4 linked regions of the Homo sapiens genome follow. The protein of the gene in region 4 purifies or fractionates together with the protein of the main gene of each other region. This does not show direct contact. Each region holds a gene or a part of one and is shown on either strand. Other genes may lie near its edges.

The links.
Region 1: the proteins of PPP6C (region 4) and PPP6R3 purify together in Homo sapiens (affinity purification with mass spectrometry; 10 studies listed by BioGRID and IntAct, with this or other methods). This does not show direct contact.
Region 2: the proteins of PPP6C (region 4) and ARHGEF2 purify together in Homo sapiens (affinity purification with mass spectrometry; 4 studies listed by BioGRID and IntAct, with this or other methods). This does not show direct contact.
Region 3: the proteins of PPP6C (region 4) and ANKRD52 purify together in Homo sapiens (affinity purification with mass spectrometry; 6 studies listed by BioGRID and IntAct, with this or other methods). This does not show direct contact.

The regions. Positions count from the first base shown.
Region 1 is NC_000011.10:68,610,737-68,615,847, reverse strand, and holds the end of PPP6R3 (serine/threonine-protein phosphatase 6 regulatory subunit 3), read right to left. Parts: intron 2,813-5,111; coding exon of another isoform or gene 2,783-2,812; coding exon 2,731-2,782; 3' UTR 1,217-2,730; coding exon of another isoform or gene 1,171-1,216; 3' UTR 514-1,170; downstream 1-513.
Region 2 is NC_000001.11:155,961,548-155,968,575, forward strand, and holds part of ARHGEF2 (rho guanine nucleotide exchange factor 2), read right to left. Parts: intron 5,341-7,028; coding exon 5,273-5,340; intron 4,933-5,272; coding exon 4,869-4,932; intron 4,214-4,868; coding exon 4,084-4,213; intron 3,866-4,083; coding exon 3,756-3,865; intron 3,585-3,755; coding exon 3,441-3,584; intron 1,637-3,440; coding exon 1,386-1,636; intron 1,172-1,385; coding exon 1,046-1,171; intron 676-1,045; coding exon 558-675; intron 363-557; coding exon 114-362; intron 1-113. UniProt on the Homo sapiens protein: Activates Rho-GTPases by promoting the exchange of GDP for GTP.
Region 3 is NC_000012.12:56,255,379-56,262,454, forward strand, and holds the start of ANKRD52 (serine/threonine-protein phosphatase 6 regulatory ankyrin repeat subunit C), read right to left. Parts: upstream 3,007-7,076; 5' UTR 2,892-3,006; coding exon 2,865-2,891; intron 2,534-2,864; coding exon 2,450-2,533; exon of another isoform or gene 2,092-2,449; coding exon of another isoform or gene 1,984-2,091; coding exon 1,905-1,983; intron 1,708-1,904; coding exon 1,637-1,707; intron 607-1,636; coding exon 406-606; intron 1-405. UniProt on the Homo sapiens protein: Putative regulatory subunit of protein phosphatase 6 (PP6) that may be involved in the recognition of phosphoprotein substrates.
Region 4 is NC_000009.12:125,186,791-125,194,433, forward strand, and holds the start of PPP6C (serine/threonine-protein phosphatase 6 catalytic subunit), read right to left. Parts: upstream 3,014-7,643; 5' UTR 2,929-3,013; coding exon 2,854-2,928; coding exon of another isoform or gene 2,772-2,853; intron 2,158-2,771; coding exon of another isoform or gene 2,129-2,157; intron 1-2,128.

The sequences.
Region 1 (5,111 bases), on a different chromosome or scaffold from region 4:
CGGGCCCAGCATGCAGAGGTGTGTACTCAGTGCTGTGTGAGATGCCTGTGGGCCCAGGCACGGAGGGATGCATGCGTGCCCAGAAAGCAAAAGGCTGTGCAGAGGACCTGCTAGGAGGTAATGACTAGAGAACATGTTTTTAAGCAAACAGGTGAAGGGAAAATGCAAAATAAGGAGCTACATAAGCATCACATCTTAAGAATCATTATGGAGCACCTAACTGTGACTTGTTGGGCTGGGAGCCAAACAACATAGGTGGGACACGCTGCACATAAAAGTAACAAGCTGGAGGTCCAGAGGAACCCTTGGAGCCGTCCCAAGACTGAGAGCCGGTGTCAGGCACCACCTCTTCTGGGCACCTGGGCTATGGCAGTGGGGAGGATGAGCCCCTGATCCCAGAGGCCACTCTCTCACACAGTGCAGTGCAGTCTTTCTCACACAGGACCTAGTGTAACACGGGACCTAATGGCAGGACACATCAACCCATTAAAAATCCAAGCAAGGTACAAGAGATTTCTAGAAACAAAGAATCAGGCTTTATTTTTGTTATTTTGAATACAGGTATTGTATTGTAGACATCTGTTAGTCTCATAATTCAGTATGGCCAACACACAGAAATTAAAAGTAGAAACAAAATGAGGGCACACTTGCTCCTGTCCTTGGCTTGGCCCCTCCAACCTCCAAAAGAACTGTCCTCCCCATTGTCATATCCTTTCCCTGCTACGAAAGACAAAACAAAATGATGCCCCAAAGAAAAGTCCCAGAGGCTCTCTCCCAGCAGTCAGTGGGATGAAGCAAGACACTGTTACCTTGGGTAGGATGGAGAAGCCACCAGGTCCATACCACAGAGGCCACAGTGGGATGGAGAAGCCACCAGGTCCATACCACGGAGGCCACGTGTGCCACCAGTGGAGCCAAACCCTGGCCATGGCTGGCAAAACTCACCACCAGGCGAGACCAGAGCATATTATCTACCAGTAATCCCCGAGGTCCAACGCCATTCAAGTCAGGCAGCCCTGAGGCAAGCAGGAGGAGCCCTGTCCTCTGGGGGTGCTGCTTCCAGAGGAGGCCCAAGGACAGTCTCTTCAGAGAGGGGCTCACCCGGGAAAGGGGGTTCCTGAGGAGGCGTGCAAAGGTCAAGGGACCCACCCTTGCCACCTGTCCCAGGGCTTACTGCTGACTCCACTGTCCTGGGAGTGCTGGAATCTCCACACCACTTAAAATGAAAAAGGAAATCAGAAATAATAAGGCATTAGACGTTTGATTCTTTTATTTCCATATGCAATGTAATGTTTAGGCACGCTGCTTGGGATGCTACTTCTAAAAAAATTGTTGGCCATTTTTCAGAATATCCTTTTGGTTTTAAATACTGGTCAGGAAAAACAAATGATGTAAAAATACGTGAATAATTTTCTATTACAGAAATGAAAAACTGATTTGCATCTAAAAGTGCAAGAGGTGAAGTAATTTAACCCTTTCACCAGACGATATGGCAATATACAATATATTGCTTGAGCTGTTTGAGAAGGCTGTGATGTATTTTTGTATTGACATAGAAAATTATAAATTACATTGAATTAGTATCCATAATCACTATATATATACACAAACCAGTTCTAAAAAAATACACTGGTTTAAATTTATGAGTGAAAACCTCACAAGGTACAGTAAACAATTAGCATGCTTCGGTGCCAGATTTTGATTTCTACTTTTAAAATACTAGCCTGTAAAATGAACGCACTCTAATTCCATTAGCAGCACGAGCATTTTCAACTGACTTGCCTAATAGGATTTATTTTAGGTCTGTTAAATATGCAGATTGCTCTGAAATGTTCATTGGTGATGCTTGTTAACAAGGTAAATTTTGGTGAATGGGTTAAAAGGCAGATGAACTACCAAATGAAACAAAAAAACAAACAAAAACAAAAGCCAAAAAAAAAAAAAAAAAATCCCAAAACACAAGCCATATACACTCCAAATAGTCTAGTGTTTCACTTGTAGGAATAATCATTTCAAGCAAACAAGACTTGAACAGAACATATGGCTTTACGATAACATCAATTTATCAACTATGATGTAGCAATAAATACTTTACTTAATCTCTACCAATAGACTTACATTTTTGATCCGTTTTAAACAATACAGAAAACAATTACCAATCAAAAACTGGTTATAAAAAGAACACCAAATATTTCTTATTCAAAATCACTTTTGTAAGTTAGAACAACCAAAATAACACTTAGAGGGCATTTTCATTCTACAACTCCTTGTCGGCCTGGAGGAAAAATGAATTCATAATTTTGTACAAGGTGAAAAATGTATGAAAACCGCCTAATACTTTGGTCACACTAATAATTGTCAAAGTTATGTTTCAAATACAATAGATCTGTGTATTCACTTTTATAAAACTATTCTTACAGCCATTTTAACTATAGTATTACTACTATTATTACATGGGTGGCAAGATCTTATTTCACAGGCTACCCATTATTTAGAACAATACAATATAAACATACGCAAAAATTCTTGGTATTTGTCAATGTGCAATATTTTTACACTTCTGAATTTCTCTGTACAATGTCTTAGAATCTAGAATATAAAGGTTGCTGGTCCTGATCCCTTGCAGAGTGAGTGCAGCAGTGACAGCTTGGTGGGCTCCAGCTGACCCCTCCAGAGCCCCTGAGTGGTGGCGGTCTGCAGTCCTCAGTCAGCAGCAGCAGACGTCACCCGTCATACAGGGCCATTCACTGAAGTGTCACCTGGTGCGCTTGGTTGGCCAGTCCTAAGGAGCAACAGACAGGCATCGGAGGCACTTGCAGCAGAAATATGAAAAACAAAACCTACTTAGCTGAGCTCCCCAAGGGCAGGGACAACTTATTTTAACATTGTTTTGAACTTAGTAAGTTTTTAATAAAATGATATGTAAATGAATGGAGCAAAAGCTCTAGAAAAATCTGAGTGAGTGCATCTAAGCTTCATCACCGGGTGAGCAGGCATTCAGCAAGGGCAGCAGCAGAGCAAATGCTCTGGGAGAACCGCCCCACCGCGGCCTCCAAGAAGCACAGGGAGTGACTAGGTCAGTGGGGTATAAACTGTGGCTTCCAGAGCCTTCAGGAGCTATGTGTTCACCGCTCCTTCAAGAAAGCTTTTATGTGACCCACAGATTGGAATCCACATACTATTTCACTTGGAAACAGGATTCTGCTACTAGGAAAGGGGGGAAAAAAGGAAAGGAAAGGAGGTTTGCAAATAAACTACTGGAAAAAAAAAAAAAGGTGTCCACTTGAAGAACATGTCCCACAAAGCAAATGTTAGGCTCAAAACTGGGAGGGAATAACAGGTGGGACAGTATATAACAAAGTGTCCAGGTTTTGCCTTCCTGCCAAAATTACAACCTGAATATATAACCTATTCGGGAAGGCTTGACCAAAATTGTATCAAGCAGACTTGGGAAAGGGTGCTTAGGGCCGTAACTGGGATGCCCACAAGCACTTTTCCACTAGCATTCACAATTTACAGCTAGAATGCTACTCATGCCTTATACCTGCTGGTTATACAGTGAGCCAAAAAGTCAGCTCTGCACACACAATCCACTCTGCTCACTTACTTACATCTGATGGTGGCTCCGTGTATGAGAGACATAGGAATCGAGACTTCTGGAACTAGACATAACTGGTATATAACTAACTTGCCTTCACTTAAACAAGCTGAGTGATCTTATAAGTAGATTTCTTAGCCCCTCTCAGTTCTGTTTTCTCCTCTGTAAAATGGGAAAAGAACCCTCCCCACGCCCCACAGGGCTTCACTAGTATACATATGAAATAAGTACATAATGTGTGCAGCATGCTCAGCACATCAGAAGCACAAAGGACATGCTTGATAAAACAGCTGTGAAAAGTGAGATCATGTGGCAATGCAGATCTTTAAGTGTGACAGGAAACAGCGCGCCTGCCAATCCAAGGAACTGTGGTATCTGGCTGGGACGGGAACCACACAGGAAAGACGGGTGAGCTTCAATATCCCATGCTGTCATACGTCACTTTAGAACACGTGCAATCTAGGACGCACTCTAGGTCTGCCCTAATGCCCACTCCAACGTCACCTCAGAGATCCTCTCCCCCGCACCCCAGCTCACATGGACCCCTGTCCCTTCTTCGTGGCTTCTTGATGAATGTGCCTCTAGTATGCCCCGAGACCACTGGGTGTCCGTGTGCTGCAGCTTTATGACCCGGCCTAGACCAGTGGCCACCACACACAAACGTGTGTCAGAGGAAAGAAGGACAGATGGATAAAGGCATGGACCCAAGTGATGCCCCTCTTCTTCCACTGGCTGACCCCATCTTTTCCTCCATCCCTTGGCCCGGCAGGTTAGGGCAGGGCTCTTCAGAGCAGGCATTCCCAGCCACAGAGGAGAGCAAGTGGCTTCCCCTTATGCAAACAATTCTTCTGTGCTCAGAAAGCCAAGGAAATGACTCCAGAGCCTTGTGCATCCTTATGACAGAGAAACCAAGAATATTCCCCTGAAGCAACTGCCCCAAACTGGGATAGACCTGGACGATCCTGCCTAGGCAGCCCTCAATATAAAGGAAATTTATAGGTAGAAATCAGAGAGCTGAAATAATTGATTGGGAATGAGACCTATAAAGGACCATTAAAAAATACATTGAAACCCCAAGAAAGAGAGTGACTTGCCCAATCCGTAGAAGCAGAGTTGAGGCAGCTTCCCAGTGCTAGAGGGCCACCCTGCCTCTTCCCCCAAAAGCCTTCACTAGAGCCAACATGCTCAAATAGTTCTTAATTTGTTTGTTTTATATGCAAAAAAAATATTTCTAATCACAAAAACAAAGGCTTTATTTTGGCTACAATTTCCACAGGAGGAACACAAACAGCTTGCTACACTGTGAATACAGGATTTTGGACCAACAAAGAGTGCTCCCTGCTGGTTCCCACTGGTTATGCTCTCATACAATGCTGGCAAGATTTGGGGGAGGATGGGGTGGGGGTGGGGGGTTAAAACTTCTCTGAAATAGCTTTAAAGGTCATTTTATTCCTTATGGAAGGAATATACAATCTTAGCTACATTTGTTCACAGAAGTTGATTGTGGGAAGTG
Region 2 (7,028 bases), on a different chromosome or scaffold from region 4:
ACAGGCGTTGAGCCACTGCACCCGGCCAAGAGAGGTTGATTCTAAGACCTGCAGGCATCTCCCACTCTCCATCTGACTTTGAATTCCTGCCTAGTCTGCCGAGCAGGTCTGACCTTTGAAGCGCCCCGTCGCTGTCTTCCAGAGCAGGCAGCCATCGTGGATGAGTTTGCGCCTCAGAAGTTCCTCTCGGCCAAAGGGGCCCTTGCCAGGCACTGGGGTTTGGGCCCGAGGGTCCATGCGGTTGTAGATCTCCTGCAGACGGGCCCCTTTCTCCAGCTGATAAATACCCTCGTCCACATTGGACAGCAGCTCCTTCACTAGCCCCAGTGCTGTGGTCAGGTCCTGGCGCTCCTCCTCGATCCCTGGCACCGGGGGTTGGCATGGGGAACGGCTCAACCAGTTTCACTCACACCCCAGTTCCCATCGTGTCTTGATTCCACCTTTAGAGGCTGCCCAGGGTTTCACACCCGACCCCACCCTTCCTGTGGTCATACCGAGCCTTTCCTCACCCCAGGTGGCCGTCTCCCAGTGGCCCTCTCCTGGGCCTGCCTACTCACCGTGGGAATGCTGCAGGATGCGGCTGATGAGTAACGGGTACTTGGTGATGCGCTGAGTCACCAGCAGGATGCACTCCTGTACCCCGTGCCGCTTGAGCACGGCGGGGCGGGTCACTTTCTACAAGGGAGGAGGCAGGGCTCAGGGCCAGAGGGGAGGGCAACAGAAAGGCCTGGGGCCTGAGCTCTGGTGCTGGCCCTGGCGTGGCCATTTACCTCATGCTTGCCTAGGTGACATATCTGGAAAATGGGGATAACAACGCCACAGGTTTGTTGTGAGGACCAACTGAAGGAGCAAAAAGTACTTGGGAAACTACCACAACGTGCTCTAGCATTCTGAGGGGTTACTGCTGACAGGATCTGTGTATGGATGGTCTGCACGGGTGGCGAATGCCTGACCTCCATGTGGGTGCAGCTCACAGGCACTACCCCCATGAGTTGGGGAGGGTGGGTTTGGGCCATGAGCATGGGATCTGGAGAGGTCCGCTCACCCGGATGAATTGCTGGAAGCGTTTGTCTCGGGCGTACAGCTCCTTATAGAGCTTTAAGGCCTTGCTGTGGCGGCTGCAGAACTCCGAGTAGGTCTTACACATCTGCTCCGCACTAGGACCTGAGAACTAGAAGTTGGTCGAGTAAGGTTAGGTCAGCATTCCCCCAAAGCCACACTTTACCCACTGGACACACCTCTGGCCTCCTGCCAAACAGGCTGGCTTCCTGTTTCTCCAGCTCTCCCTGGCTCCCCTCCAACCCCTAGAATTTGGACCCAAGAAATGCCCAACCCAGTCACACCTCCTTCCATGAATGTCACCCAGGGGTCCTGCCTTTTCCCACCTGGCTGATGAGCAGATCACCCAAGCGATGGATGACAAAGTTCCGGGTGCTGCCAGGGCACAGGGCCTGGCGTCGGCGTTCTAATAGCTGGCTGAGGAAGCGTGTATGGATGTCACTGAGCTCGTCCACGCAGGGGAACAGGCCCTGGACCACTCCTGGCTCCAAGTGTAGCTCTTCCAGCATCCCCGTGCGGAAGAGGCGGGTCATGATCTTCAGTGTCCTCACATGGTGCAGCTCTGTCTGGATTAGCTCTGTGGGGGACATTGGGACATTTGGCCTCTACCCTGGCTTGGCTAAAACTCGTGGGGCCCTAGGATAAGGACCTCACAGTTCACGTGAGGTTTTCAAGGTCCATTCCAGGTTAATATTCTGCATTATTATGATCTTAGATACTTTTCTAATCATTTTTATCTTTTTTTTTTTTTTTTTTTGAGACAGAGTCTCACTGTATTGCCCAGGCTGGAGTGCAATGGCGCGATCTCAGCTCACTGCAACCTCCACCTCCTAGGTTCGAGCAGTTGTCCTGCCTCAGCCTCCTGAGTAGCTGGGATTACAGGCACGCACCACCAGGCCCGGCTAATTTTTGTATTTTTAGTAGAGATGGGGTTTCTTCATATTGGTCAGGCTGGTCTCGAAATCCTGACCTCGTGATCTCCCCACCTCGGCCTCCCAAAGTGCTGGGATTACAGGCATGAGCCACCACACCCGGCCCTCATTTTTATCTTTCAAAAATTTTATTATTATTTTTTTTTTTCCAGAAATGAGGTCTTACTCTGGTGCCCAGGCTGGAGTGTAGTGGCACAATGATAACTCACTGCAGCCTCGAACTTCTGGGCTCAAGCGATCCTCCTGTCTCAGCCTCCCAAGTAGCTGGGACTATAGGCACATGCCACCACACCTGACTAGTTTTTTAAAATATTTTTTAAAGACGGCTGGGCACGGTGGCTCACGCCTATAATCCCAGCACTTTGGGAGGCCGAGGCGGGTGCATCACCTGAGGTCAGGTGTTCGAGACCAGCTTGGCCAACATGATGAAACCCTGTCTCTACTAAAAATGCAAAAATTAGCCGGGTGTAGTTGTAGGCGCCTGTAATCCCAGCTACTTGGGAGGCTGAGGCAGGAGAATTGCTTGAACCTGGGAGGCGGAGGTTGCAGTGAGCCGAGATAGCGCCAGTGCACTCCAGCATGGGCGACAGAGCAAGACTCTGCTTCAAAAAAAAAAAAAAAAAAAAAAAATATATATATATATATATATATATATATATACATATATATATATATATATTTTTTTTTTAGAGACAGAGGTCTTGCTTTGTTGCCTAGGTTGGTCTCAAAATCCTGGCGTCAAGTGATCCTCCCACCTCGGCCTCCCAAATCGCTGAGATTATAGGCATGAGCCACCACGCCCAGTTCCATTTTTTATCTTTACACCTTATCATCTCAAGCTGTGAGCTATTTTAGGGTAAGAACCATATGTCTTCTACATGTCGAGGCTTCCCACAGTCTCCAGCACGGTGTTAAGCGTGGAACAAGCACAGAGTAAAGACTGAAGACAGAGATAAAGAAGGGATAAAGAGAGGGTGTTGGAGACCAACAGCATCAAGAGGTAGGGACCTAGTGGGCAACCTGTGGGATACCAGGCAGGGTCTTGTAGGCCAAGAGGGAAAGGGTTTTGAGAGGTAGGGGCTGGTAGAAAGAAGGACACAGCCGGGTACGGTGGCTCACGCCTGTAATCCCAGCACTTTGGGAGGCTGAGGCGGGCAGATCACCTGAGGTCAGGAGTTTGAAACCAGCCTGGCTAACATGGTGAAACCCCGTCTCTACTAAAAATGCAAAACTTAGCCAGCATGGTGGCAGGCGCCTGTAATGAGAATCGCTTGAACCTGGGAGGTGGAGGCTGCAGTGAGCCGAGATCATGCCACTGCACTTCAGCCTGGTTGAGAGAGTGAGACTCCATCTCAAAAAAAAAAAAAAAAAGAAAAAGAAAAATAAAGAAGGAAGTAGATAAACAGGACCTGGTGAAGGAAGAGGAAGACTAGGGTGGTCTTGGCTTACCATAGATGACATCTTGCTGCTTCATCACCTCCTTTTTATGCTGCTGCAGGAAGCTGCTGTCCACAGCAAGACTCCAAGAGTCAGCTGCAAAGTCCTTCTCATCCATCTCAAAGTCACTCATCAGCTCACTGTAGATTACCTCTGCTGGACATTAGCAGGGCAAGCAACTCAGAGGTCTTGAGTTCCCTTCCCTGGGTCCCTGGCCCTTCTCTAGATCCCTTCCCTCCTTGTCCTTCCAGGCTACTCCCACCAGCCTCTCATCCCCCAGCCCCTCTTCATGTTCCTCAGGGCTCCCCTGGGCCCAGGCCTGCTCACCTTCGTCAATGAGGGATTCCACGGATAGGGTTCGGTTCCGCATGTTGAGGGAGTCTGTGGACTGTGAGAGGATCCGGCGCAGCCCCAGGGGAGACTCATCATTGAAATGTCTGAAGAAAGTGGAGGCTGTCTGCATCACCCCCAGTCGGGCAAAAGATCCCTTCCCAGGTAGGGAACCAAAGCCAGGATCCAAGAGGCGGTCCCCCTAAGTTCTCCTTATTTGTCTGTCTACAGTTCTGAACTCAGGGATGGAAAGGGACCTCTCAGCACCCCCTTGGCCTCCACTGCCACACTCTCTGGCTGCCCCTTTCCCCAAACAGAGGCTCACCCAGCAATGTTGGTGGTAGAAACACTCTTGGCTAAAGACAAGGAGGAGCGGCCACGGCGGGAGCCCAGGAGGGACTGCCGGAAGCTGTCGGAGGGGTAGATGGCCGAGCTTGGCCGCTCCCGGATGGTTGCTGTGGGGGAGAGATGCCCAGCAGGCAAACATCAGACTCTGGTGCTTCCCAGGATTGAGGCCTCCTAGGCTCCTCAATGAGGAATGAGGCATCCTCTCACTCCACCTCAGCCCCTCTAGTCAAGAAAGATGGTAATGAGAATGCCACCTTACATTTGTGCCATACTCTAATGTTCACAAAGAGCTTTTTCTTACTTATCTCCTCCCTGACATAAGCCTATAAACAAACAGGAGCTCAGAAAGACAAAAAGACTTGTCCAGGGTGACTTGGGTAATGGCTAGGCAGGGACTGAGGCTCTGCTCTTTATACCTAAGGGCCATGCTCTTTCTGTTACACCAAAGCTGTCTGAATTGACACTTGACAGCTGCTACCAACACTCCCGAAATGCAGTGTAAATAACTGATAAAAATGCAGGCTGCGGCCAGGCTCAGGCGACCACCCATCCCCAGCCCTCATCCCCATTCGGACTCTCTCTCCCCTTCTGCCTCTAAGTCCAAGAGTCCGAACCCTCCCTTAGGCCCCCACTATCTGCTTCCAATCAAGAAGAGGAAGGTGCTATGCCTGGGAACAACCTTAGTGGGGCAGCAGAGCCCATGGGTTGAGCAGCCTGGGGTCCAGGGTCTTAGGGGACCTCCTCCACTCCCCAACTACTCACTCTTACTTCGAAGAGAAACGGACTGCAAGGCGGTGTTGTTCTTCAGCAGGGCCGCTTTCTGTTGCTGTGAGACAGAGAGCAGGAGAGAGATACCAAGAATGGCTGTCACCCAAGGATCACCCCCAGAGGCATGGGACAGGAGCTAGGTGGCCGGCCCCCTTAGGAGAAAGCTGGCACTATGGTTAAGGGGATCAGGGTGATTGAGCCCAGTGCTGTGGGGACATGTCTGCAGCAACAGGCCTGGCCTACTTGGGGCCCGAGGCCTGGGGTTGAGGGTCTGGGCTGCCCCTTGGTGAGGAGGTGGGTGGTGAGAAACACAGGGTAGGGAATGAATGGAAAAGGCATGAGGGTACCGCACACTCACTACCCTCTCCCCCAGCCCTCTGCCCTCCCTGCCGTCTCACCTTCTGCTTGACCTTGGTACAGTTGGCGAGGGTGTCTTTACAGCGGTTGTGGATAGTCACATTGCAGGCTGGGAGGGTGGGGTAGAGAGGGTGAAGGGAGGGCCGGGTGGTACAGGAGGGGACACACCCACATGCAGACACCCATCTCCTCCTGGCCACACAGTCCTCGGGGACTCTCCCCCCTTCCCCGACTTCTGGGCCATTACCACACCCCAGTCCCTCTCCTCCCACCTCCCTCTTCCTTCAAGCAGGAAATGAAGTGAGGGGGGTATAGGTGCTGAATGAAATTAAACAATCAAGTGGGATGGGCAATCCTGACCCCAAGGTGGCCTGAAGGGCGGACCAGAGGGGAGCAGGGGTCACTGGCTGCCAGAGATGAGCTCAAGAAGCACGAAGGTGGTTGCGAATGGCAGATGGAAGAGAGGACTCCCACAGAACAGAAGATGGCACAGAGGCAGCCAGAATGGGGGCTAGGGGCAGAGGGGAAATTTACATTCCCTGAGCTTTTATAATAGTAAATGTTCCACATTTACTTAATCCTAACCACCCGTAGAGGGAGGTTCAGTTATCCTCATTTCATGTATGAGGAACCTGTCCTGGAGTGGCTAAATCGTCCATCAGAGGTCACACGGCTAGTGGGAGAGGTGGTGTTTACACTCCGGTGGGCCTGAATCCAAAGGCCGTGCTCCTTCCCTCGCACCACATGCCCTGGACTCTGGCTGGGCCTCAGCAGCTCCAAGGCTGATTGATGGCTCCAGTGGTAAAGAAGGGACAGGCAACTCCCCACCAAGCCTGGCCTTCTCCCTTCCAGGCCCAGGGAGTCCTGTTCCCCCAACTCAGGCAAATCCACAGCTCCCACACTCCATCTGCTTCTCCGCCATCCTCCACCCCACCTTGCCATGGGGTAGGAGAGAAGAAGAAAGGAGGATTCGCTGAGCCTAGGCACTGGGACCCTGGCCGTGCCCTTCCCAGACATGCCCTCAGCTCCCGGCCCTCTCCAGCTTCCCCTCCCCCATCCAACAACACCGGAAACTCTGCTAACTCTTTCAGACAATACCCAGCACCACGCTCACTTCCACAAATACAAGGCAAACAGGGTGGAGCAGAGGGGGCAGACAGAAGTGGGGGTTGCAGCTGCCCCCACCCCCCTGGAGCTCCCTTCTCCTACCCCCAACACTCAGTGTCTCTGGATTGAACCTCCGCTTTCCACCTGCTCTCAAAATAGTGCTGCCCGCCTCCCCTGTTCCCCTGGCAACAAGCTTCCGGATTGGGAATTTTGTCAGGTCTCTATAGGGATCTAGATTGGGGTTCCCTCCTCATCCTCACAACTCTAAATTGAACAGTGAGGAAAGTAGGGAGGCTTCACTGGTTTTCTTTTCTTTCTTTTTTTTTTTTTTTTTGAGCGGTAGCAAGCTTTATTGTGAAGAGCAAAATGACAAAGCTCCCACAGCGTAGAAGGGGACCCGAGCGGGTTGCCCATCACTGGTCCTTTCTGGGGGTTCCTTCCCCAAGTTTCATAGGGATTTACAGGCTAGAGCTTTTGTCCGCTATTCAGTAGCAGGTCACAATACCTTCAATCCTGCTCTAATCAGAGGCATCTCTGCCATAACTTCAGGAGGAATTGAGGGAGAGGGGGCAGCAGGAGCCCTCTGTGTACTGGGGAAGGAAAGAATTCCTGGCTTATACTCCCTAAAGACAGGACTACACTCAGATGTGGATGAAGGGCAGGAATTCTAACCCCTGCCCCTCAACACAC
Region 3 (7,076 bases), on a different chromosome or scaffold from region 4:
ACAGGGTTTCACCATGTTAGCCAGGATGATCTCGATCTCCTGATCTCATGATCCACCCGCCTTCGCCTCCCAAAGTGCTGGGATTACAGGCGTGAGCCGCCGTGCCCGGCCGGTTCTTAAACTCTTGTAAGTCTTTGCAAATGTGCTGAAAGACATGGACTCTCTTCAGAAAGGCGTGTATGCAAATATTTTCCACGCAAAATCCAAGGTTTTATCAACCTCCTGAAGTCCAAGTTAAGAATTTTAATCTAGTCTGACCATTCATTTAGTGCTTCAGCTTAAGTGTTTATATAACCATCCGGGCTGCTTCTCCTTCAGGCTTGAGGGCCCAGAAGCAGGGAAACGTGAGTAGGAAGGTAAGAAAAGGGAAAGCCCCAGCTGGGCCTGGATGGGAACAGTCCTCACCTCAAGATGCCCACTATGCACTGCATGGTGCAGAGCACTGCGCCCGCTCCTGTCAGCCACGTTGAGGCTGCTCAACAGGGGTGCCAGAGCCTCAGCACACTTGGTGGCCCGGTTGGCAGCAGCCACATGCAGTGGTGTCTGCCACAGCTTGTCCCGGGCATTCACATCTGCTGAATGTGCCAGCAGCAGCCCCAGCACCTTCTGTTGAGGGGCAGGGGACAAAAGAGAGAGTGGGAGCAGGAGGTAAAACAACAGGAAATGGAAGGAGGAATAGGTCAGCATAGCATCTACAGCCCCTTCCCCAGCACAGAATCTCTTCTCATTTTTCCAACATACCTAGCCTCTGAATACCTACTTTCCATCTTCTGGATCTTCTTAGAACTTAAGCTCTTCCTTACCTTGCTGATTAAAACAAGGACCCTTTGCTCTTCTTCAAGCCACCTGACTCGCCAACTTAGACCCTGAAAATCTTCACTCACACATACATCCATTCCCAAACAAATCCACATGTGGAGATCCACACATCCCAACCCCCTACTACTTCTAGGAAAACTAAATGCTCTTGCTACATCTTGCCCTGAACACCCTCTTTAGCCTTCTCATAGGCACCAAAATTATTTTCAGTATCTCAGTAAGCAAACAGATACTGGTTCGTTTGCAAAACCCGAGCTAAAATGCCCCTCCTAACCACCACCCACCTCATTCCCACTGGCCTCGGCCCCTCCCCCTGGTGGCTGGAGCCAGGGAAGTGATGAACTGAGGAGGAGGTCCCCCTTTCCCTGTCTTCAGGGCTGATGGGAATAGGATAAAGGACCCAACTGATGAAATATGTTTGGCCCCTGTGCTGTCAACTTTCAAGCTGCTTGAGGGCCAAGGATGCAACAGATTACTATACCCATCCTCCATCACAAGGAAAAGAAATCTCAGTGCCCAGAGGGGGATCAGACTCAAGGTGGCCCCCCAGGGAGGGATGAGTCACTCAGGCCTGGCAGCAGGGCCCCCGCAGTCTGCCAGCCCAGTGTTAAGCTCTTCCTGAGTCACATCAGCTGGCAGCACTCAACCCCCTTACTGGCCAGTTCTAGGGGTAGGAGGAAGGGGCCAAGATTTGATCTCCTCACTACCTGGGGTAGAACAGCTTGTAGGGCTGAGGACTGAGGCTCCTTAACCCTTAACCCCCACCTTTAAGCAACTTATCCTTTTTGAAAGGGTAATAGAAGGTGGGGGTGCATACCTCGTTTCGGGAGGCAGCAGCACGATGAAGAGGGGTCAGCCACAGTGTGTCCTTAGCATTGACATTAGCACCTGTGGGGATATAATTTCCTATTTTGATGGAAGGTGGGGAGGAGGTATGAAGGAAGCCAGTAATCAGGCCAGGAAATCTGAATGGAGCTGGAGCCTCGCCTGGACCAAGCCGGGGAGAGCAATCCTTGAATATCAAAAAAGACTCCTCCCCTCCCTTCGCTCCCTATGTGCCACACCTTCCAGCTCCCCACTTTCACCTGACATCAGTAGCAACTGGAGGATGGGGACATCGCCTACGTAGGCAGCAGCATGCAATGGAGTTCGCCTCTCTTGGTCCTGGGAAGGCAAAAAAGAGCAGGGAGTATGGGCGCGGGGTAAGGGGGCTATCAAGGACCCCAGCCCAAGTCTCAGAGCTCCAGGCCCTTCCCCACAACCTCTTCCCATAGTTTCTGCAGCGTCCTAAGTCCCGGTATTGGGAGTCAAAGGCAAGCACCTAGGGAGGGTGGAGTCAGGGCCAATGGGCTGAGAAGCCGGCTCCTTTTTCCAGGAGGGGTGGGGGCGCTGCAGACTCCGGAGGTTGAGAAGAGAACAACGTTCCTGGGCATTCCCAGCCCAAGTGATCTGGGCTTCAAGCCTGACCTGCTCTCCATCCCCAAATGCAGAGTAGGCTTTCACTCCAGGATGGAAAGAACTGCGGCCTCATCTGAGCAGAGGAGACACGGAGCCGCCCCACCGGTGGGGAGGGGTCCAGAACACGGGAGCCAGGATTCCGGTCTCGCCATCCTCCCTGCTCCCAACTCACCAGCACATTGATGTTCTCCTTCTGCGAGAGTAGGGAACGCACTTCCTCCACATCTCGGCTAAAGATGGCCTGGACCAGGGGCGGCTGCAGAGAGAACCGGCATTCTGAGAGCGGGCTGGAGCCGGAGCGGAACCGGTGTGGGGGTGGGGGTGGGGGAGCACCTAGGTTTGAGTGGGGGGCGTCCGTGGAGGGGCTCCACTCTAGGGATTCTGGCTGGAGCGAGCTCCCGCGGTGCCTCCGCCGGTTGCCAGGTCCCCAAGGACACCGGCTCGGTTGAGGGGAGCGCGGCATGGGGCGGGGCGGGAGCTGCGGGAGCCCCGGGCTCAGGCCCAGCCTAGGCCGCACATCCCCGGGCTCGCGTGACGGCAGCGCCGAGCCCTGGAAGGAGGAAGCGGGAAAGGGCAGGAGGGCTGACCTGGTCCGTGATGCTGAGGATCCCCATGGCTCGGCCCGGGCTCCGTCCGCATCGAGCTCCCGGCGGCGGCGGCGGCGGCTCCACCGGGGACACGGAGCGGCCCAGGCGGCGGCTGCGGTGGCGGCTGCAGGGAGAGCGCGGCCCCGCCTACCGGGGGGCGGGCGAGTTGGAGGCCGCAGCGCTCCCTGGCGGCCGTCCTGGTCCCGGCGCTCCCCGCGCAAACGGACCCCGGCCGCAGCGCCCTCCGCCCCACCCTGGCGGCCCCAGCAGCCCCTGCACCCCCGAACTCGCGCGCCGGCTCCCCGGCTCACGCAGCTGGCCGCGCTGTGCTCTCCGCTCCAGTCTGGCGGCCCAAGGGGTTCCCCACAAGACCCTAGCGGAAACCTGGGCCTTAGTCCCGCGGTGCTTCCCAAACTGAGGACCGAACGGCTGGCCAGATCTTACCCAGCCCACAATGCTCCCGCCCGAGCTAACTCCTCCCGTCAGCGATTCCACACCCCGAAATCCCCCACAGACTAGGAGGAACTGGCGGGTGGAGAACTGGGAATTATGTATGGCAATAGCCCCAGAGGGAGGGAAAGCGTGTATCTCCACTGGCGGAGGCGTGAGTTCGGTAGAGAAGAAATAGCAAAAGTGCTCAAACTGCAGAGAAACCCCAAGGAGGATTCTACTGCAGAAAACACCCACAAAGAGGCCATGACAACTGGCAGCTGGAAAAGGCCGCCAAGACCAACAGAAGGGGCATTTTCCAACTCCTTACTGATTCCATTGCAAGGTTAAAGTGGAAAACACTCAACAATTTCTCCCCAGAACAGCCTGTGGCGCTTCCCCTCCTCCAATGGAGAGGCCAGAGAGCCGTCAATTAGAGAAGAAATGAATGGAGGTCATCTCAACCCAGAAACGGAAAAAGGAGGAAGACGAAAAGTGGAGATTGAAAAATTGATACAATTTATAAAAGGTGATCCAGGGTCCTGTTCAGAGTTTCACAACTCAATACACATTGAAGAGAACACGAAATGGACGAAGTGCAGCATGCTGGCGTCCTGTCAAGGCTTTATATATAAAAATCCTCCCTTGAGGGGAGAGGAAAAAAATTAAAAAATAAAAATACATTTTATTTTATTTTTTGAGATGGAGTTTCACTCTCGTCCCCCAGGCTGGAGTGCAGTGGCACGATCTCGGCTCACTGCAACCTCCGCCTCCCGGGTTCAGTGATTATCCTGTCTCAGACTACCAAGTAGCTGAGACTACAGGCGCCCGCCACCCTGCCCGGCTAATTTTTTATTTTAGTAGAGACGGGGGTTTCACCATGTTGGTCAGGCTGGTCTCGAACTCCTGACCTCAGGTGATCCACCTGCCACGGCATCCCAAAGAGCTGGGATTACCGGCGTGAGCCACCGCACCCGGCGAAAATACATTTCAAAAAAGCCTTCCCGGCCGGGCGCGGTGGCTCACGCCTGTAATCCCAGCACTTTGGGAGTCCGAGGCGGGTGGATCACGAGGTCAGGAGATCGAGACCATCCTGGCTAACACAGCGAAACCCCGTCTCTACTAAAATACAAAAATCAGCCGGGCAGGGTGGCGGGCGCCTGTAGTCCCAGCTGCTTGGGAGGCTGAGGCAGGAGAATGGCGTGAACCCGGGAGGTGGAGCTTGCAGTGAGCCGAGATTGCGCCACTGCACTCCAGCCTGGGCGACAGAGCGAGACTCCGTCTCAAAAAAAAAAAAAAAAAAAAAAAAAAAAAGCCTTCCCATTCCCAACATGGTGAAACCCCATCTCTACCAAAAATATAAAAAAGTAGCCTGGTGTGGTGGTGCACGCCTGTAATCCCAGCTACTGGAGAGGCTGAGGCAGGAGAATCACTTGAACCAAGGAGGCGGAGGTTGCAGTGAGCCGAGATGGAGCCACTGCTCTCCAGCCTGGGTGACAGAGCCAGACTCCATGTCAAAAAAAAAAAAAAAAAAAAAAAGCCTTCCCTTGCTTTCCTGCTAGAAAGATACTTAAGACACTAGTAACAGTCCTTTTTTCCCAGAAAGAAAAACTGGGGTACAGGAAATAAGGAATGAGAGAGAAATTTACCTATCACTATATACCTTTTGGAATTTTTTAAATTTTTACCATATTGAAAATAAAAGTTAAAATATTGCTTAGGAGCAATCACTCCGTGATTCCATGCACACACAAAAATTATGAAGAAATTTAAACTTACCTCTTCCAGGAAGTCTCCTCTGGCTAATAGGCTCTTTTCCTTTTGTTAGTTCTCCTTAACACTTACATACTTAGTTTATACTGCCACAATCTGGTTAAATTGTACACCTTTGTTTCTCATTTCACCTTTTTTTTTGGAGACCAGTGTCGCTCTGTCGCCGCCCAGGCTGGAGTGCTGTGGCGGGATCTCGGCTCACTGCAAGCTCCGCCTCTGGGGTTCATGCCATTCTCCTGCCTCAGCCTCCCCAGTAGCTGGGACTACAGGTGCTGCCACCATGCCCGGCTAACTTTGAGTAGAGATGGGGTTTCACCATGTTAGCCAGGAGGTTTCAATCTCCTGACCTCGTGATCCGCCCGCCTCGGCCTCCCAAAGTGCTGGGATTACAGGCGTGAGCCACCGTGCCCAGCCAGGTATAGTTTTTTTTAAGCTCCAGAATATCAGTATAGAGAAACAGGCATTTAATATTTGATGACTGATGATGATGATGAAGCAGCAGCAGAAACCAAAGGTAGCAAAGGATCAAATGGATATGGGTGTTGGGACTTGGCTATTGGGTATGATGGGCCTTCCAGGAAGGGCTAAACTAGGATATGGCCCAGAGGATAAGGAGGAGGGGCATACATGGTATCCATTGCCCAAAATAACTCTAGGTAACCTGAGGAATTGGAGTCAGGGGTTCAGCTGGGGTCACGTGCCCGGTTCTGGCTAGGGGATGGAGGTGAACAAGAGAGGTTGCCAGCCTGGTTCTCTGGGCAATTGGAGGGAGGAGGACGGGCTAGAAGAGTTATTTTTAATATTATTTAGAGCATCAAAAGAGGATTTCCCAGTAGGAAAAAAAGGGATTTGATGTAGGGAACACTGATACTTTCAGGGCTCAGGGAGACACACAGGGTATGGGAGGAGGAGGCCAGAAGTGGTGATAAAACCTTCTTATATGGACAGTCCTTCTGGATTGAACTACAAGCATTCATATTTGGGTAACTCTAGACAGATGGCTGCCTATTTTTAAGCCTCAGTTTTCCTTCTTCTGACTAAATGTGAGGACTCACCCGATGTACAGCCCTGTACTAATTGGTCGGGAGGTCAAAAATTAGAAGTAATGGTGTCTCTTTATGAGGAGCTTATAACTTAGTAGATGAACATACATATACATGTGAAACAACTACAGAATATAGGATACATGCTAGATTACATGGCATTATGTGTTCAGAGTAATGTTGAAGGAAGGGTTCAGTCAAGAGGGTCTTCCTGGAGGAGGTGTGTTTTGAGTCAGTACTTGAAGGAAGTTATTGATGTAGAATGGTGGAGACATGGGAAGAAATCGGTTGTTTCAAGTATAGGGACTAAACTAGGAAAGTTTAAATGGCAGTAATTAGTTAAACCAATTAGTAGGGGACAGTAAGCAAATTGGCTTGGTAGGCCTGTTGGACCTTGGGGATTCTGTAGCAGTCAACTTGGTTAAGGCAGAGTGATAATGAGGTCACAGTTCAGTTATGTATCCCTGTTAATTTCTGTCTTTTAACCAACCAGATCCTTACTCCTCATTCAAAGCAGCTGTCTCACATGTATAAGCCCTTAGTCAGAGGCGGGTGGGGCTGGACAAGACAGTGGAATTCGAAAGAGTAAATCTGTCCTTTAAGGTCATGTGCCCATCTGAAGGTGGCTCCAGATTACCATTTGTGAACTGGAAGGAGGCACTGTACTACAGTAGTGGAAAGGAGGACTGGGGGATGTGGACATTTTAACAGACTCTCTCTGGAGTGCAGAGGCGAAAAGAAGAGATGTTAGGAAAGAAAATAAGTGAGATCATCACCCAACTTGGGGTATCACGGAAGAGGATAAACGGAAAGGTGGCGGCCGGGCACGGTGGCTCATGCCTGTAATCCCAGCACTTTGGGAGGCCAAGCAGGTGGATCACCTGAGGTTGGGAGTTCAAGACCAGCCTGATCAACATGGAGAAACCCCGTCTCTACTAAAAATACAAAATTAGCCGGGTGTGGTGGT
Region 4 (7,643 bases):
AAAAAGAAACAAATACAAGTCAAGTACAATGCAGCTATGTTTCAACAAGAAATAAAATGGTCTAAAAATTGTACTTCCTTAAGGTAAGAAGGAAATCTAATGTTTATCAAACTAAGAGGTACAAAGAAGTCCAACAGATTTTTCTTTCTTTTTTTTTTTTTTTTTTTTTTTGGTGAGACGGAGTCTCCCTCTGTCACCCAGGCTGGACTGCAGTGGCGCAATCTTGGCTCACTGCAACCTCCGCCTCCCTGGTTCAAGCGATTCTCCTGCCTCAGCCTCCCAAGTAGCTGGGATTCCAAGCACCTGCCACCACCTCCAGTTTATTTTTGTATTTTTAGTACAGACGGGGTTTCACCATGTTGGCCAGGCTGGTCTCGAGCTCCTGACCTCAAGTGATCCACCTGCCTCAGCCACCCAAAGTGCTGGGATTACAGGCGTGAGCCACTGCACCTGGCCAGATTATCTTTCAAATCATTTCAGTGCCCAATTTCCTTTTCTTTTTTTTTGAGACAGAGTCTTGCTCTGTCTCCCAGGCTGGAGTACAGTGGTGTGATCCCGGCTCACTGCAAGCAATTCTCCCGGGTTCAAGCCATTCTCCCTGCCTCAGCCTCCCAAGTAAGTAAACTGGGATTACAGGCACCTACCACCATGCTCGGCTAATTTCTGTGTTTTTAGTAGAGAGGGGGTTTCACCAAGTCGGTCAGTCTGGTCTCAAACTCCTGATCTCAAATGATCTGCCCACCTCAGCCTCCCCAAGTACTGAGATTACGCCACTGTGCCCTAGACACATTTTCATAAAAAGCAACATTTTATTCATCATAAACACAAAGTTCAAAAAAGCTTTATGCATGATAAATAAGAAGAAAAAATTCCATGTCAATTCACTGACATGCAATAGTCAACCTCACCTATGGGATTAATAATGCTACTAAGAGGTCTGGTTAGTTTTCCATGAATTGGGTCCCAATGCTAGTTGTATTCTTATTCCCTTAAAAAAACCACATAGCAGAAAGAAGCCACAAAAGGAATGTCTGAAGGACTCAGATGAGCACAAATGCTACATTACTACTAACGAAGGCTGTCCTTATTTGAAATTATTCTATTAAAAACGGGAAAATGCACAAGAATGACTCCCCTATCATATGCCACATAAAATTAACAGGTAAGTACAATTCAGTCACATTCACAACAGCACGTGTGGCCTCAAATATTATGCATACTTGTTGACTGATGTTAAGTATCAACTTACTGTACAAAGAAGAAATAAAACAAAACCCACAGTAATATATTTCCTTAAGAATACACTGAGTCGGGGCTGGGCACGGTGGCTTACGCCTGTAATCCCAGCACTTTGGGAGGCCGAGGCGGGCGGATCACGAGTTCAGGAGATCGAGACCATCCTGGCTAACACGGTGAAACCCCGTCTCTACTAAAAATACAAAAAATTAGCCAGGCGTGGTGGCGGGCACCTGTAGTCCCAGCTACTCGGGAGACTGAGGCAGGAGAATGGCGTGAACCCGGGAGGCGGAGGTTGCAGTGAGCCGAGATGGTGCCACCGCACTCCGGCCTGGGCGACAGAGCGAGACTCCGTCTCAAAAAAAAAGAATACACTGAGTCGGTTAAATACTAGCACGAGCTGATAAGCACTGCTAGAAACCTAAGCTCTGATTTCAGCAAATGCATAGAAACACTTTTCAAAGAAGCAGTATACCTAGGCCGGCGCGGTGGCTCACGCCTGTAATACCAGCACTTTGGTAGGCCGAAGCGGGCGGATCACTTGAGGTCAGGAGTTCAAGACCAGCCTGGCCAACATGGCGAAACCCCGTCTCTACTAAAAATACAAAACAGCCGGGCGTCGTGACGGGCGCCTGTAATTCCACCTAGTCGGGAGGCTGAGGCAGGAGAATCGCTTGAACCCGGGAAGTGGAGGTTGCAGTGAGCCAAGATCGCACCGCTGCACTCCAGCCTGGGTGACAGAGTGAGACTCTATCTCAGTTAAAAACAATAATAATAATAATAATAATAATAATTAAAAAGTTTTAAAAAAGAAAAGCAGTATACCAAAGTCATTCCTTTACCCATACATACATTTACTCTTACTTGGACTCAGGAGTAACAAGGAACTCACCTCCTTTAGAAAACGAAGAAAATGAAATACTGAGTTAAGAAGGGGTTAAGGAGAAAGTATTTGTATTTATTGAGAACCAACTACTTTATCCACTTCAGTAAGCTCAACAACATACTCAGAAACGGGATTCACCTCTGAATTAGCAAAACCGACGATCCTAAAAAGCAATTTGGAGGAGTGGCAATGAAGAGGGACGACCTGACGTTCGCTCCCGCCAGTACCAAACCACTCGGGCCCACCGCCTTCCCCTTCCTCAGAGACCTAAACACACTGAGGCCGCGTTCCGGTAGCCGGTGGCATCTCCTGTCAGACGCCGGCCACTCCGCGCTCCTGTCACCTCCGGTGGAGGCGACCCCATCCCGAGGGCACTGCCGCGGGGGCTCGGCTCCGACTGCGGGAGACCCAGGGATGGGGTGGGGAGCCGAGCCTTCTAAATAAAGCTGTTACAGCTGCGGGTCCTGGGGCAGCCCGAAGGCCAGAAGGGGCGACCCTGGGACAGAGGCCGCGACATCCCTCGGGATCCCCACTGAGGCAACCGGGACAGCATTCGACGACTCGGCTCGCGAGACCCTCGGCGTGACGCCGGGTAGGACCGGGTCGACTGGCAATGGGGGAGGCCCTCCACCGCGACTGGACTGGATACCCGGCGGGGGTCCTGGAGAAAGGAAGGGCCGGCCGGCGGGCGCCCCACAGCCGGAAGGGGCGAGCCCGCAAATAGGGCTCACCTTCAGGTCGTTCTCTGGCAGGTACTTGCACAGCCGCGCTATTTCCACATACTTGTCCAGGTCTAGCGGCGCCATTTTAAGAATAACAAGCCGCGGCAACAGCGGCGGCGGCGGCTGTAGCAGCGGCGGCGGCAGCGGCGGAGGCCGAAGCCGGAACTTTCCCTGCGTCACGTCCGGCCCGTGAGTGGCGCCTGCGCAGCGCCGTTAAAGCGCGACCCGTTTCTCCCCGCTACGTCGGTACGCCCGGCGCCCCCTCTGGCTGAACCCCGACTGCAGGCCCCAAGAGAGCCCGCTTCGGTCCACCCCGCGAAACCTGCTGGGACCCGTAGTCGTCTGCCGCGGGGGTGCTGGGATGTGTAGTTTTCTGTTGTGGACAGCCACCCCTCTCTTTTCCTCCCGTTCCTCCAGACTTTCACCTCCCGGCAGCCGGCGAGGCTTTTCCGAGGCAAAACAGCGGAGTAGGTGGTCCTAGCCACTCACTGGTTTGTTTTTCCAACCCTTTTAAGCACTCTCCAGAATATCTTCACTTAACAATTGGGTAAGCCTGGCCGTAGTAACCGTTTGCACCTTTCCAAGTCCCTGTGAAAACCTCGCCTAAGCCTGTGGCAGAGATGTCAGGCCCCAGTCTTCCAGCCTGAAAGGAAGGGAAACGAATATTATTAAAGCATTTCTGATGCTAAATGCGATACAAATGATATTTTTCCTTTTAATCTTCGTAACGATTGATAGGAAAGTGAGGCTAGGAAACTGCAGTTCACCCCAAATCTCACAGGGAACAAAATGGTGGGGTCAAGATTGAAAAATGGCTTAAGCTTAAGCATGCTTCCAGTGAGAATCCCACGAGGGCAGGGAGTTTTTTGCTGTAACTCCAGCACCGAGAACAGTACCTGGTACTAGCATACCTTCAGCGTTCGTTTATCCAACCACTCTTTGCTGAGCAACAAAGATGTGCCAGGTACAGCTCAAGGCGCTTGCAGTACTTCGTGAACAAAATAGACAAAGATCTCTATTCTATCTGTAGCTACAAAAAGTACCAAAATTAGCCTGGCGCGGTAGTGCGTGCTTGTGGTCCCAGCTACTCTGGAGGCTGAGGCAGGAGAACCGCTTGAGTTGGGAGGCGGAGGTTGCAGTGAGCTGAGATCGCGGCACTGCACTCCAGCTTGGGCGACAGAGCGAGATCCTCCTCAAAAATAAATTAGTAAAAGGAGCTGCTGTATGGGACTAGGGGTGGGGGTGCAATGCCTATAGCTAAGAGACCAGTTAAGAGACTGTTATGTAATCCAATAGTAGCAGGCGCTCAATAAATATTTGTTGCTCAAGAGACCCTGGAATTAATCCTCTTGCTCTCTAAAGTATATTTTGTGGACAATTGGCTAACCCTGAATGAGATATCTGGGTGAACTTCTTTGTATTATTCTTGTAACTCCTCTGAAAGTATGAAATTGTTTCAAAGTAAAATTAATTTTTAGAAGTTTGTTGCAGAATGAATGATGCCCACAAGCATTCATTTCTTCATTCATTAAACTAATAGTTACATAGTGCCTATTGGCCAGGCCGCGGTGGCTAATGCCTGTAATCTCAGCACTTTGGGAGGCCAAGGCAGGCAGATCACCTGACGTCAGGAGTTCAAGACCAGCCTGGCCAACATGCCGAAACCCCATCTCTACTAAAAATACAAAATACTGGGGAGGCTGAGGCAGGAGGATCACTTGAATTGCTTGAGGCAGAGGTTGCAGTGAGCTGAGATGGCGCCACTGTACTCCAGCCTGGGCCACAGAGTGAAACTCCATCTCAAAGAGAAAAGAAACCAGAGGTTACACAGTGCTTATGATGTGAATAAAACAGATATGATCCCTGCCCTAATCAGGCTTACAATCTGCTGGGAAGAGACAAACAGTATTTATTTATTTATTTACATTTACTGGTTTATTATTAATATAAAGGATATTACAAAGGATACAAATGAAGAGATGCATAGGGTGAGGTAATTAAAATTTTTGTTTTTGTTGAGGCCGGGTGCAGTGGCTCAAACTTGTAATCCCAGTAGTGAAGCCAAGGTGAGCAGATATCTTGAGGCTAGGAATTCAAGACCATCCTGGCCAACATGGTGAAACCTGATCTCTACTAAAAATACAAAAATTAGCTGGGCATTGTAGCACATGCCTGTAATCCCAGCTACTCCGGAGTCTGAGGCATGAAAATTGCTTTGAGGTGGGGGTTACAGGGAGCTGAGGTCGTGCCACTGCACTCCAGCCTGGCCAACAGAAAAAAAAAAAAAATTGTTGAGGTGAGGTCTTGCTGAGGCTGGTTTTAAATTCCTGGCCTCAAGCTATTCCGCTGCTTTGGCCTCCCAAAGTGCTGGGATTATACGTGTAAGCCACCATACCTGGCAGTGAGCAAATATTTAATTGCAAATTGTGATTAGTACTCAAAAGGGAAAATAGGAGGTACTATAAGCAAGAAAAATGGAGTAGACGAGGTCTACCTTTGGCTGGGCACAGTGGCTCACGCCTGTAATCCCAGCATTTTGGGAGACCGAGGCGGGCAGGTCTTTTTGAGGTCAGGAGTTCCTGACCAGCTGAGATCCCACCACTGCACTCTAGCCTGGGAGAGAAAGTGAGACCCTGTCTAAAAAAAAAAAAAAAACAAAAAACTACATTTTCTTACCTGTACTTGTGTCCTTTGGGGGAAAAAAAAGGGCCCAGCATGGTGGCACACGCCTGTAATCCCAGCACTTTGGGAGGCCGAGGCGGACGGATCATGAGGTCAGGAGTTTGAGACCAGCCTGGTCAATATAGTGAAACCCTGTCTCTACTAAAAATACAAAAAATTAGCCGGGTATGGTGGTGTGTGCCTGTAATCTCAGCTACTTGGGAGGCTGAGGCAGGAGAATTGCGTGAACCTGGGAGATGGAGGTTGCGGTTGCAGTGAGCTGAGATAGCGTCATTGCACTCCAGCCCGGGTGACAATGCAAGGCTCCGTCTTAAAAAAAAGAAAAAGAAAAAAAGAAAGAAAGAAAAAGAAAAACTTAGCCTGGTGTGGTGGCACGTGCCTGTGATCCCAGCTACTCAGGAGACTGAAGCAGGAGAATCACTTGAACCTGGGAGGCAGAGGTTGCAGTGAGCCGAGATCGCACCACTGCACTCCAGCCTGGACAACAGAGCGAGACTCCGTCTCAAAAAAAAGAGGCCTACTTTAGGTTGATAACACAGAGGAGGTAAAGTACAGGATGTAGCTTCTAGCACCATGTGGGCAGAGTTCAAATACAGGCTCTACCACTTATTGTGTGATTTTGGTTTGGAGAAGTTATTTATCCTTTCTGTACTCCAGTTTTCTCAGCTCCAATATGGAGATAATAATAATGCTTACCTCCTCTGGAGATTGTAAGAATACTACTTACCTCATAGGCTTGTACAAAGGTTTAACAGAGTTGGTATATGAAAATGGCTTAAAACAATGTCTGGGCCGGGCACAGTGGCTCATACTTGTGATTCCAACACTTTGAGAGGCCAAGGCAGGAGGATCACTTGAGCCAAGGAGTTCAAGACCAGACTGGGCAACATAGTGAGACCTCATCTCTACCAAAAAAAAAAAAAAATTAAAATTAGCCAGGTTTGGTGCTGGCACATACCTGTAGACCCAGCTACTCTAAAGACTGATGTGGGAGGATCACTTGAGCCCAGGAGGCCAAGGCTGCAGTGAGCTGTGATTGTGTCACTGTACTACATCAGGGTGACAGTGAGACTCTGTCTCAAAACAAAAAACAAAGACAAAAAAACATTGTCTAGCACAGAGTGAGTGCAATATGAGTGTTAACTCTGAGTATTAGGTGGGCAGGAAAGGCATTTCTGAAGGTGTAACATGTAAGACTTCAGAAAAAAAAATGTAGGAGGCTGGGCATGGTGGCTCACGCCTGTAATCACAGCACTTTGGGAGGCCCAGGCGGGCAGATCACTTGAGGTCAGGAGTTCAAGACAGGCCTGGTCAACATGGTGAAACCCCGTCTCTACTAAAAATACAAAAATTAGCCAGGCATGGTGGTGCATGCCTGTAATCCCACCTACTGGGAAGGCTGAGGCAGGAGAATCGCTTGAACCCGGGAGGCAGAGGTTGCATTGAGCCGACATTGCGCCACTGCACTCCAGACTGGGTGACAAAGCGAGACTCCATCAAAAAGAAAGAAAGAGAGAAAGAGAGAGAGGGAGGGGAGGGGAGGAAAAAAAGGCAGGACAGGTGCAATGACTCATGCCTGTAATCCCAGCACTTTGGGAGGCTGAGGTGGGCAGATTGCTTGGGCCCAGGAGTTCGAGACCAGCCTGGGAAACATGGCAAAACCCCATCTCTACAAAAAATATAAAAATTAGCCGGGCATGCTGGCATGTGCCTGTAGTCCCAGCTACTCAAGAGGCTGAGGCGGGAGGATTGCTTGAGCCCCAGAGGCGGAGGTTGCAGTGAGCCAAAGTTGTGCCACTGCACTCCAGCCTAGGCAACAGAGTGAGACCCTGTCTCAAAAAAAAAAAAGGAAAAAAAGGTAAAGGGATAATCTGCTCAGAATTTCTTGGAGAAAAAAATTCAAATGGAAGAAGATGCTGTTCTTGTTTAGATATTTTTCTTTTTTTTTTTTTTTAGAAACTGATGTTTATGGCCAGGCACGGTGGCCATAAACACACACACCTGTAATCCCAACACTTTGGGAGGCCAAGGCGGGCGGATGACGAGGTCAGGAGATCGAGACCAACCTGGCCAATGTGACGAAACACCGTCTATACTAAAAATACAAAAATTAGCCT